Linked DNA regions of Homo sapiens: region 2 is linked to region 1. The links come from fine-mapping of genetic effects on gene expression. A gene starts in region 1. The other region holds a variant in brackets. All regions are shown on one strand. Distances are between the middles of the regions. Region 1 holds the start of TCTA (T cell leukemia translocation altered). Region 2 holds the start of PFKFB4 (6-phosphofructo-2-kinase/fructose-2,6-biphosphatase 4).

Region 1 (5,371 bases):
TGACCTCGTGATCTGCCTGCCTCAGCCTCCCAAAGTGTTGGGATTACAGGCGTGAGCCACCATGCCTGGCCAACTCAGGAAAAATTTTTATGGGGTCACATCTTGGGGATGGAAGAGGGACAGGAAAAGAAACCTAAGACAAAAGAACTGATGGTCTTCCCAACCCAGAGGCTTCCTGAGTTATCACCCCTGAGAGAGGAAGAACACAATCTCTCTCCTTAAGGCACCCAGATAAGAGTACAGGCAAACTCTTCACTTGCCCAGTGCCTGGGTGAGGGAGCAGGCTTAAGAGGCAGAAGAGGCCCAGCCCTGTAGGCACTGGGTACTCCCTGCTACCAACCCTGAACCCCCGGCAGTTGTCCCTGAGGTCTGGGGAGTAGCAGAACCCAGTGTAGAAGCCAGCAGACCCAGTGATGCCCTTGGAGACCCTCTGCTGCCTTCCCTTATTCTCTGTGGGTTTTGAGAGGTTCGTTTGCTGCCATTTCCCTGAAAGTGATGGAGAGAGAGAAGAGAGAGTGGTTATTCCATGGGCAGAACAGTTGCTGAAATTGGCTCTCCCAAGCTCCTTCTTGGGGGCTGAGCTAGGCTCAGTAAGGTCACATAACAATCTAGACCTCTCTGCTGGTCTCCCACAGCCCACCCTGGGCCCAGCACCTTCTCCCTGCAGACTCATTCTTCTTCCTGGTTCTCCATGTTAGTACGGCATTGCCATCCTTCTCTAGTTTTTTTATTCTTTTTATTTATTACTATTGTTATTACTTTTCTTTTTTTGAGACGGAGTTTCACTCTTGTTGCCCAGGTTGGGGTGCAATGGCAAGATCTCAGCTCACTGCAGCCTCCACCTCCCGGGTTCAAGCAATTTTCCTGCCTCAGCCTCCCAAGTAGCTGGGATTACAGGCGCCCGCCACCACACCCAGCTAGTTTTTGTATTTTTAGTGAAGACGGGGTTTCGCCATGTTGGCCAGGCTGGTCTCAAACTCCTGGCCTCAGGTGATCTACCCTCCTCAGTCTCCCAAAGTGCTAGGAACAGGCGTGAGCCACCATGCCCGGCCTGTTATTTTTTTTGAGACAGAGTCTCACTCTGATGCCCAGTCTGGAGTGCAGTGGCGTGATCTGGGCTCACTGCAACCTCTGCCTCCTGGGTTCAAGTGATTCTCATGCCTCAGCCTCCCGAGTAGCTGGGATTACAGGCGTATGCCACCATGCCCAGCTAATTTTTTCTATTTTTAGTAAAGACGGGGTTTCCCTATGTTGGCCAGGCTAGTCTCAAACTCCTGACCTCAAGTGATCCGCCCATCTCAGCCTCCCAAAGTGCTGGGATTACAGGCATGAGCCATGGGGCCTGGCCTCTTCTCTAAGACAGAAACCTGGGCAGTGGCAGCCTTTCTAACCTCTAGCCCTAACTCTTGGACCCCTTTATCTACTTGCCATGAAGTAGGCATTTATAAAGGCAAATTAGATCAGACCACAGCCTTGCTGAGTTAGTCTTTCAATGGCTCCCAGGGTCCAACAAGCTCTCACGTTCAAGCTCCAGCATCACAGTCTTACCTATTCTAATATGTCACCCGTATTCTTCCCTCTTAGCCTTGCTCAATCCATTCCCTTTGCTTGGTACACTTTGTCACCCTGTGGCATTTGATCTCGGCTTAGGTGTCTTTCTTGGGAGAAGCCTTCCCTGACCACCCTTGCCCCATGCACTGCCGCCCTCCCCTAATAAATCCCTGGCTCCCCATGAGCAGGGCCCGGGTTGTCTTTGTTCTCTGGGCCTCGTGTGGCCCCTATCACGTGATAGGGGCCCAGAGATTATCTGAATGAATGCCCTGATTAGTGAGCGCATGTTTTGCAGAAGAGGAGGCTGACCCTGATGAGGTCAATGTGCTCAGGACAGAGATTACTGCCTTCCCAACTGAGGGGATTGTGCAGAGTGGAATCCAACAAACCTGTCATTTCATCTCTCTGAAATTATGACAATACCACCACCTATCCTACAGGCTGCTGAACAGCATGATGATGGACTGTCCAGACCTTGGTGTCACCCTAACTTGAAGCCTGAGCTCTACGTGCAGACTTGAAGCTTGCTGCAAAGGCCATTAAGCTGGTGGGCTTAAAGCCTGAGAACTCCCCTCTCTGTCACCAGCACAGGAGTGTCCTTGGAATGCCAAGCATGGGGTTGCGGTATGGACAGATTTACTCACCACGAAGGGAAATGCGTGGAGCCATCAGGCGTGGATCCATTCTGACCACCCAGACCTGGAGGCAGAAACACATCCAGAGCTGCAGAAGGCTGGGGTGGGAATCTGAGCAGGCATCAGCCCAGGTCAGGTTAGAGACCACTGGTATTGTTTGGTGAAGTCTGGTGAGGGTCCTAAGGGACTAATGGTATTGCCAGGTGAGAGTTCTGAGGAACAGATACAATGTGATGGGTGGACTGGTGGGGATTCTGGCGTAAAATGGTATGGTGGCATGAGTCAGGGCACAACGTTAAGTTCTCCCATCCAAGTACCTGGCTTAGCTTCCGAGGTCAGATGCGTTCAGGGTAGTAAGGCCGTGAACCAATGTTAAGTTCTGATGAGCCTCTTGCAGGATAGTGGGGAACCCAATGGTACAGTCGGGAGAGGGTGGGGGCGGGGGCGGCCAGCCCACGGAGGTTCGTAGGAAGCCTCACCTGGACGGTGATACAACCCGGTCACTGTATTCCCGTAGAACCCCCACGCCAGCTGGATGCCCAGGAGACTTAACACCAACCACAGCAGCAGCAGCTTGAAGAGGGTCACGCGCATGTCCTGCGCCTCCCACTCCCGCAAGAACTCGCTGCCCAGCGCGCCCAGCACCGTGGCCGGCAGAGCCTGCAAGGCCTGCCCAGACCAGGACTCCGCCATGACTGGCCCTCGCCCCACCCGGGGTACTGTCACCGTAGTCCCCACCACGCACGCGTGTGGTCTTCCGGGACCAGGCCCGTTAGTGCGCACGCGTAAACCCAGCCAGGGTGGGGCCTACTTCGCGTGCGTGAAGAGTTGGCAGTTCGGGGAGGAGTATTAAAACCGCGCACGCGCACCTAACCCCACCCTGCTTGCTTAAGGGATGAGTGACTCCGGGAGTACAAAATAGCAACCAGGTCTTTTATAGCCCCGGAGTTCCCGTGATGCCCCACGCGGCTGCAATGATTGGTTAAGGGTTTTGCTTTTAGGGCGTGGACGGGCTCCTGAGCAATAGTGGATGAGCTGTGAGTGCGCGCGCGTGCGCGGGGCCGCGACCTGTGCCGGCTCGAGCCCGCTGGGCACTCGGAGGCGCGCACGTCGTTCCCCGCCCTCCCGCCGCCGCCCGCCCTCGCTCTCTCGCGCTACCCTCCCGCCGCCCGCGGTCCTCCGTCGGTTCTCTCGTTAGTCCACGGTCTGGTCTTCAGCTACCCGCCTTCGTCTCCGAGTTTGCGACTCGCGGACCGGCGTCCCCGGCGCGAAGAGGCTGGACTCGGATTCGTTGCCTGAGGTGAGCGGAAGGGTTCCCTCCAGGCGCCGCGGGGCCCCAGGCCCGCCAGCCCGGTACTCTTCCGGCCGGCAGGCCGCCGCACCGCCGCGGCCGCGCCCCACCGGCTGCTCGTGGCCGAGCCGCCCCTGGCCCCTGACCCTTGACCTGACTCCCAGCCCGGGCCCCGCGCCCCAAGCGGCGACCCCGCCCGCGCAGTCCCCGGAAGCGCGCCCGGTAGTCTCCTGTGCCCCTTCCCCCGCCCGGCCGGGCCTGGTGGAGCCCAGGCTGCCCGCCTGCCCGCCCTCGGTCCCCGGAGCTTCCTCTCCCAGCGGCGCCGGGCAGGGCGGGGGCTTTGGGCCGGGCCCCGCGACCGCGCAGTGTAGCCGGCCGCTGAAAGCGCGCGTGGCTGTCGGAGTTGAAATGGGAAAGAAACTCTTTACAACTCCATTTTGCTTTTTACGTTTAACGAGAAACGACAATCACTGTTTCATATTGATTAAAGTCCAGTTACACTTTGGGTAGGTTTTCTTTTAATGCAGACTTGTTGGAGACTGTGTAAGTAAGTAAAAGATTGTATTGAACGCTTAGGGGTATGATCTACGGCCATACCACCTGGAACGCGCCCGAACTCGTCTGAAAGCTTTGGGGTCTGTTTTGAGTGGAAAAGGGGTATTTTCCATTTGGAAAAAAAAAACAACACACAAAACTGTAAATGATTTAAGCGATGTTGCATGAAAATAGATGCAATGTTGCTTAGTCGAAGTCGCTGTATTGATTAGGAATGATCTAAATATCTGTACCTTAGTTACTGATTGGATCTACAGTTACGGGTCGTCTTCATTGAATAGCGCTATTCGCATCCAAGTTGATTTGTTCACAAACCTTGTTTAGTAGTTTACGGTGGAAAATTGGAATCCTTTTTACCTCAAAGTTGGTTCCACTTGTGTTTTTTAATAGTTCTGATTTTAAATTTTTACCTCTGTTGTTGACTTGTTTGGTTCTGTCTTGAAGAAAGTCTTAAACGTTTCTTGCAGGTGTGTAAGTAGATATTTCACTCTGCCTTTCTGAAGGAGAAAAATTGAAAAACCAAAAAACTTCCATAATTTAAAATGTTGTATGTGGAGAGAATTTTTCAACCACTTAGTATCACCCAGATGTGTAATGTGTACCATGCGGATGATTGTCACCTTAGATGTGGCTAGATTGGCGGAGATACTGTTTTGAGCATTTGGCACAAGTGACATTGGACTGAAAAACTAGTTTTTAATTGTAAAGAATGACTTATTGAAGGATCTCTGGATAACTTGTCTTAATTGGTTCCATCTACTTTTGTGGAGCACTGATGGCTCTTGGGGACATTAAATATATAAGGTGCACCTTGGTTTGAGTTAAAGTCTAGTGCTAGATTTATCCTCTCTGTTCTCATAAAAATCTGTGTTGGAGGGAAGAAGAGAGTAGGAATACTGTGTAGTTCTTGAGTTTTAGATCTAAGAGGAATCTTTCAGGACTGGTTGTCCAACCCCATTTGCAGATGAGCAAACTGAGTCCCAGAGACTTAAGTAAATTTCCCAAGGTTACCTATCTAGTCAGGAGCAGACCAGAACTGTCTGCTCTGTTAAGGTATTCTCCATTTACTCCCAAGCAGTTGGCCTCCAGAGTCAGCTAAAATTCAGGACTTCTAGCTTATTCCATTGTTTCTTCTTTTAAACCTTGTTGATGGTGAATAGTTTGGGAGAAACTGTTCATTTGCCAAAAAATTTCGGTTCATTAGCTTACACAGCACTCTCCCCTTGTTAACTGGATGGTCCTGCCTTCAATTGAGGGAGATAGATGAATGTACGAGGGTCCCTGGTTGGCCTAATCATGGCTTTGTTTGGATTTTTTTTTAAGGGACCAACTTCTAGAG
Region 2 (5,371 bases), 860 kb after region 1:
CTAAAAATACAAAAATTAGCAGGGCGTGGTGGTGGGCGCCTGTAATCCCAGCTACTTGGGAACCCGAGGCAGGAGCATCCCTTGAACCCGGGAGGCGGAGGTTGCAGTGAGCCAAGATAGCGCCATTGCACTCCAGCCTGGGCAACAGGAGCGAAACTCCGTCTCAAAAAAAAAAAGTCCCACGCATTTGCTCCCAGCAGCCAAAGCAAAGAAAGAGGAACAATATTGAAATGTGTTTTGAGTCTCTATCCATGAGGTAAAAGAGCTTTTCCAGCGTGGTTGAGCATGCTCCTATGGACGGCGGAAGAGTCCCGGGGCTCGGAGCAGTCAAGGGGGACCCCGAGGAGGGGCAGGAGGGCGCAGCGGAGTTGACGGCTGGGACTGCAGGCCTACTGGCCCCTGTCGGCTCTGACCAACCTGGCCGTGCGGGTCACGTAGGCCTCGTCCCACTGCATGAAAACCCCTCCCTCCTGGGGGCCCTGGGCTCCCTAGCAAGGAGGTAGCAGAATTCACGCGTGCCGCTGCTCAGGGATGCAGCGCCAGGGCGGAGCCCGTAGGTGGGGCCTATGCAAATCAGCGCGGGCAGGTTGGGAGAGCTGAGTTTGCGCATCCGGGGCGGGCCTGCACAATCCGGGCCTTGAACTGGGGCGGGACCAGTACAATCCGGAGTTGAGCATGCGCATTCTCGATCCTGGCCTGAAGAACTGGGCCCACTTGTTCCAAAACGGGCGGGTAGGTGAGTTGGGCATGCGTGGTCGGAGGCCGGGCCCCTTTCAGCTGGGGCGGAGCCTACTCACTCTGGGGCGGGACCTGCGGGAAGATAGACATGGGCTGTCGCGGCTTGAGGAGGGGCGGGGCCCAAGGGGCGGGACCTCGGGTGGCCCGAGGTGGCCCGGCTGCTGGGTTGGAAGCGGCGCAGTCCGACTCATCCCGGCCCCGGGATGGCGTCCCCACGGGAATTGACACAGAACCCCCTGAAGAAGATCTGGATGCCATACAGCAATGGGCGGCCCGCTCTGCACGCTTGCCAGCGCGGTGGTGAGGCGGGGTCCTCTGGGAGGAGGTGGGAGGTGCACCGGGATGGGTGGGTAGGGCGGCCTGGGCGGGGGTCTCGCATGGAGAAGGGGCGGGAGACAGATGGGGAACCGGGGACAGGTGAGGTTGCCGTGACTGGGGAGGCTGCTGGGGACAGGTGAGGCGGTCGTGACAGTGGTGGGCCAGAGACAGGTGTGGCAGAGCAGGGGGCGGGGACAGGTGTGTGGGGGCATATCGGCTTGGCGGTGGCTAGGTCTGGCCACCATCACCTCGGGGAGGGCTCTGGCCCCCTCGCTTCCCTCTCCAATCCCCATCGCCCCCAGTCTGGGGAGGACCCTGTGGGCACCCCAGGCCCTTCCCTCTCTCCTGGCCAAGGAGTGTGGGCCGGGTTGTTGGACTGGAACTGAGCTGTGTGGCCCTAGGTGAATTACTTGGCCTCTCTGAGCCCAGAACTTTCAAAGGTGGGCTAGTTTTCCAACAGGAGGAAGGGTGCCTCTTGGCCTTAAAGCTGAGCTTGGGCAGGAACTTCAGCAGAGATGTGCTCAGGATAGAGACAGAAAAGTATGCCGTGTGGGCCTGTGTCTGTGTCCCGGGACATGTAAGTATCCACCTGGGGTCATGGGTGTACAGTAAAACTGGAGAGTGAAACAGCTAGGAGAATGCTGAAATTCATGGAATTGTTAAGGGGCTCACCTCTCCTAGGGTCCCAGGTGTTTAAACCGCTTCCTTGAGTTTCTGCCTGTCCTTAAATGAGCTGGCAGTTTTTTTTTTTTTTAAGAGATGAGTCTCGCTCAGTGGCCCAAGCTGGAGCAAGTGCAGTGGCGCGATCATAGTTCACTGCAGCCACGACCTTCTGGGCTCAAGCAATCCTCCCACCTCAACCTCCCGATTAGCTGGGATTATAGGTGCGCCACCACACCCAGCTTTTTTTTTTCTTTTTTCTTTTTTTTTGTAGAGACAGGGTCTTGCTATGTTGTCTGGGCTGGTCTCCAACTCATGGCTTCAAGTGGATCCTCTGGCCTCGGCCTTCCGAAGTGTTGAGATTACAGGCGTGGGTCCTGGCCTGCAACTTTTTTATTACCAGGAAAAGAAAGATTTGTTTTAGGAGTAACTGAAACATTGTAATGAATTTGCAGCTTGTCCAGCACCTCAGAGAACATCTAGTTTAACAGACAGTGAAATGGAGATCAGGAGATTGAGTGACATGCCTGGGTCTCCCTGTGATCCTGCCTCTGCTTATGTATGATAAGCAAGGGGAGAGTTCTTTGTGCTCATCCTGCTGCAGCAGCCTGGAGCCATGGCTTTGATCATGATATGAGTCCTGGGGGAAGGGTGTGTGTATTTCTGGCCACACTGTGAGTCCTGGCAGGGGAAGGCCATGTTTCTGACCAGACCAAGTCGTGGTAACTCATGGCTTTGATTGTGATGTAGGTCCTGGTGGGGCTGTGCTGTCTATAATGCACACTCAGTCCTGAGGGCTATGGCCACCCCTCCTTTGAGACTCTTCTGGAGGCGGGGAGGCTGAGCCAGTCTGTGTTATTAGGGCTGTGTGGTCCTGACTTAGGGGGGTGGCTGCTATTACTACATAGGGGAAAGGAGTGAGGACCTGGACTTTTTTTTTTTTTTTTTTTTTGAGACGGAGTTTCACTCTTGTTGCCCAGGTTGTAGTGCAGTGGTCCTATCTCAGCTCACTGCAACCTCTACCTCCTGGGTTCAAGCAATTCTCCTGCCTCAGCCTTCCAAGTTGCTGGGATTACAGGTATGCGCCACCATGGCCGGCTAATTTTGTATTTTTAGTAGGATGGAGTTTCACCATGTTGGCCAGGCTCGTCTTGAATTCGTTATCTCTAATGATCTGCCCCCCTTGGCCTCCCAAAGTGTTGGGATTACAGGCATGAGCTGCCATGCCTAGCCAAGTCTGTGAGCCTTTAAGGAGTAGGTCCTCAATAAGCGGAGGCAGGGTATTCTGTCATCACTACCATTCTTTCTTTGCTTCTCACTACGTCTGAGTCAGGGATTGATGCATCAGCTCCAAGCCAACCCCCGTTACAGGTGAGAGGAAGCTGAGGCCCAATGGGAAGGTCTCATAGCTCCTGAGGCAGGGCTTGTGTTTCTCCAGGCTCTAAGTGTGGAACTGAAATGTGGCTCTGGCCTGAGCTGAG[G/A]GGCTCGTGCCATCACGGTGTCTCAGGGTGTTGGGGTAGGCTGGGTTCTAGGTCCGCACTTTTTCCTGGAGGAGGAGGTAGCACCTGAGAGGCCAAAGATGAGACCTGCAGGTTGTTTGGGGATTTGGGCCTCAGGGTTCACAGCAGGGAGTGGGTAAGCAGTGAATGAACATGGAACCCGCCCATGCAGCACCTCCAGCTCCCAGTGCCTGCATTTGGGCAACACTTTACCCTTTGCATAGTAGACTTGTAGGTTGAGTGACTGCAAGGACAGTCTGGACCCGGAGGGTGTGGGTGGGGATGGAAGCGGATTTGGTCCCAGGGCTTTGTGGGGAGGAAGAAGCAGGACCCACTGCTGGTCTGTGCTTTGTACTGGGTTTTCTCTGGAGTCTAGTCCCCAGCTCCTCAGGGCACTAGGGGCTGGTGGACTGAGGGATGTACTGCACCTCCTCCACTCCCACAGGCACGCCCCCGCTTGATAAAATTTAAAGCCACACCTGAGGGCTTGGGAGGCTTTTACCTTTCCCATCATTGGCCTCCGAGCTCAGACCTGGAGGAACTCTGAGGGCAGGTGGGGCAAGAGCTGACTCAAGAAGGACTGCAGAAAGGACGGTGTTTGATGGCTTTTCTCAGCTGAAAGGTGGCAAGACTCTTCCTGGGTAAGGACATGACTGGTGTGTGCACAGGGCAACAGGAGAGATGACTTTCAGTCCCCTCTGAAAAGGGCCTCCATGGCACGTTACTTTATTTTAAAGAGCTCTTCCTTCCCTAGCCTGGCCTAAGGAGGTGAGAGCAGTTGCAGTTCAGGAGTCAATTCTGGCACCCCCTCCAGGGACTTGTGGCTGCTCCTTGGGTAGAAGTAATGGAACATAGACACTGCCCATTGCCAGGCACGTCTCAGGCCCCTTGGGCCCCTTCGCTCCTAGAGCTCATGGGGCCTGCAGCGAATTTACAGGAAAGGAACCCATGAGGGAAGTTGGGCTGACATGTCTTCACATTTCCTTCCGCACATGCTCAATGTTATAAACAGTGTGTTCTTTTTTTTTTTTGGAGACAGTCTTGCTTTGTCCCCCAGGCTGGAGTGCAGTGGCACAATCTTGGCTCACTGCAACCTCTGCCTCCTGTGTTAAAGCAATTCTCCTGTCTCAGCTTCCCGAGTAGCTGGGATTACAGGTGTGCACCACCACACCCGGCTAATTTTTGTATTTTTAGTAGAGACAGGGTTTCACCATGTTGGCCAAGCTGGTCTCGAACTCCTGACCTCAGGTGATCTGCCTGCCTCGGCCTCCCAAAGTGCTGGGATTACAGGCATGTGCCATCACGCCCAGCTATAAACAGTGTATTCTACCATCCTGTTTGCTCAGTGTCAGGGTCCTGTGGGCTCAGAGCCACAGGTGCAGCCGTGCACCCAGCCCGCTTAGTCCACGTGCTCTGTTTTGAGAGCTGCAATGTGTTCCCTCCTTGTTGTGCCTCAGTTGGCAATTTCTTATGGCTGGAATTTCCCAGTGTTTTGCTATGGTAAGCAGAGCTGTTGTGATACACTTGAACTTTGGTTTTCTTTTGGGTCATTTCCTTGGGAGCTTATCTTGGGGAGCAGAGGAGATAGGTAATTTATTGCCTTGTTTTGCACCCAGGCCTGATTTGCTGCCCTGCCTGCCCACCTTGTGCTGCGCATGTGGGTGGAAGGCGGGAAGGGAAATGCCACCAAATGCCATGGGAGGAGGCTGGAGCTGTCTCTGGGAAAATAGGAGATGTGGAGAGGGGGTGCAGATCCCCAGTCCTGAGGTTTTGGGAGTCCCTGAAGGAGCAGTTGGGGGGTGGCCCCATCAGCGGGAGCAGGGTAGATGCAGGATTTCCTCCTGCTTAGCAGCTGTCGCACTGCCCTTGGTTGCTTGAGAGCCCGGCCACCTGGCCGGGAACTATGCAAACAATGCACAATGCGGGCCTCAGCTGTCCACCGGCCCTGAGGAGGCAAGGCCTTGCCTAACTTGTTTTCCTCTCACCTTAGCTAATACTGAGAGTTCTCTGCAAGTTTCTCCACTCTCACTCAGTCAGCCTGTTTCATGGGGTCTCCTCCTTCCCGCCCCTGAGGCTCACCATTTGGGTCACCTTTAAACAAGGGGAATGCACAGGAGTGATGGAGCCCCCACTGGCAAGCAAGGCCCTTTGTTTCT

What was found.
Region 2: its variant is fine-mapped to the expression of TCTA in blood mononuclear cells (TOPMed, PIP above 0.99).

The regions. Positions count from the first base shown.
Region 1 is chr3:49,409,935-49,415,305 of GRCh38, reverse strand. It overlaps TCTA (T cell leukemia translocation altered), which reads right to left and starts at 2,883. Exons shown (of 3, transcript NM_022171.3): 1 at 2,666-2,883; 2 at 2,196-2,250; 3 at 1-486. The coding sequence starts at 2,879. The coding sequence ends at 444. RHOA (ras homolog family member A) reads left to right here and starts at 3,330. Exons shown (of 5, transcript NM_001664.4): 1 at 3,330-3,486. RefSeq lists enhancers at 2,671-3,080, 3,016-3,310, 3,209-4,183 and silencers at 3,151-3,450, 3,511-3,790, 3,801-3,890.
Region 2 is chr3:48,552,348-48,557,718 of GRCh38, reverse strand. PFKFB4 (6-phosphofructo-2-kinase/fructose-2,6-biphosphatase 4) reads left to right here and starts at 916. Exons shown (of 14, transcript NM_004567.4): 1 at 916-1,038. The coding sequence starts at 942. RefSeq lists enhancers at 204-293, 424-513, 4,636-5,297, 5,298-5,371. The variant G/A (reference allele first, on the strand shown) is at 3,198.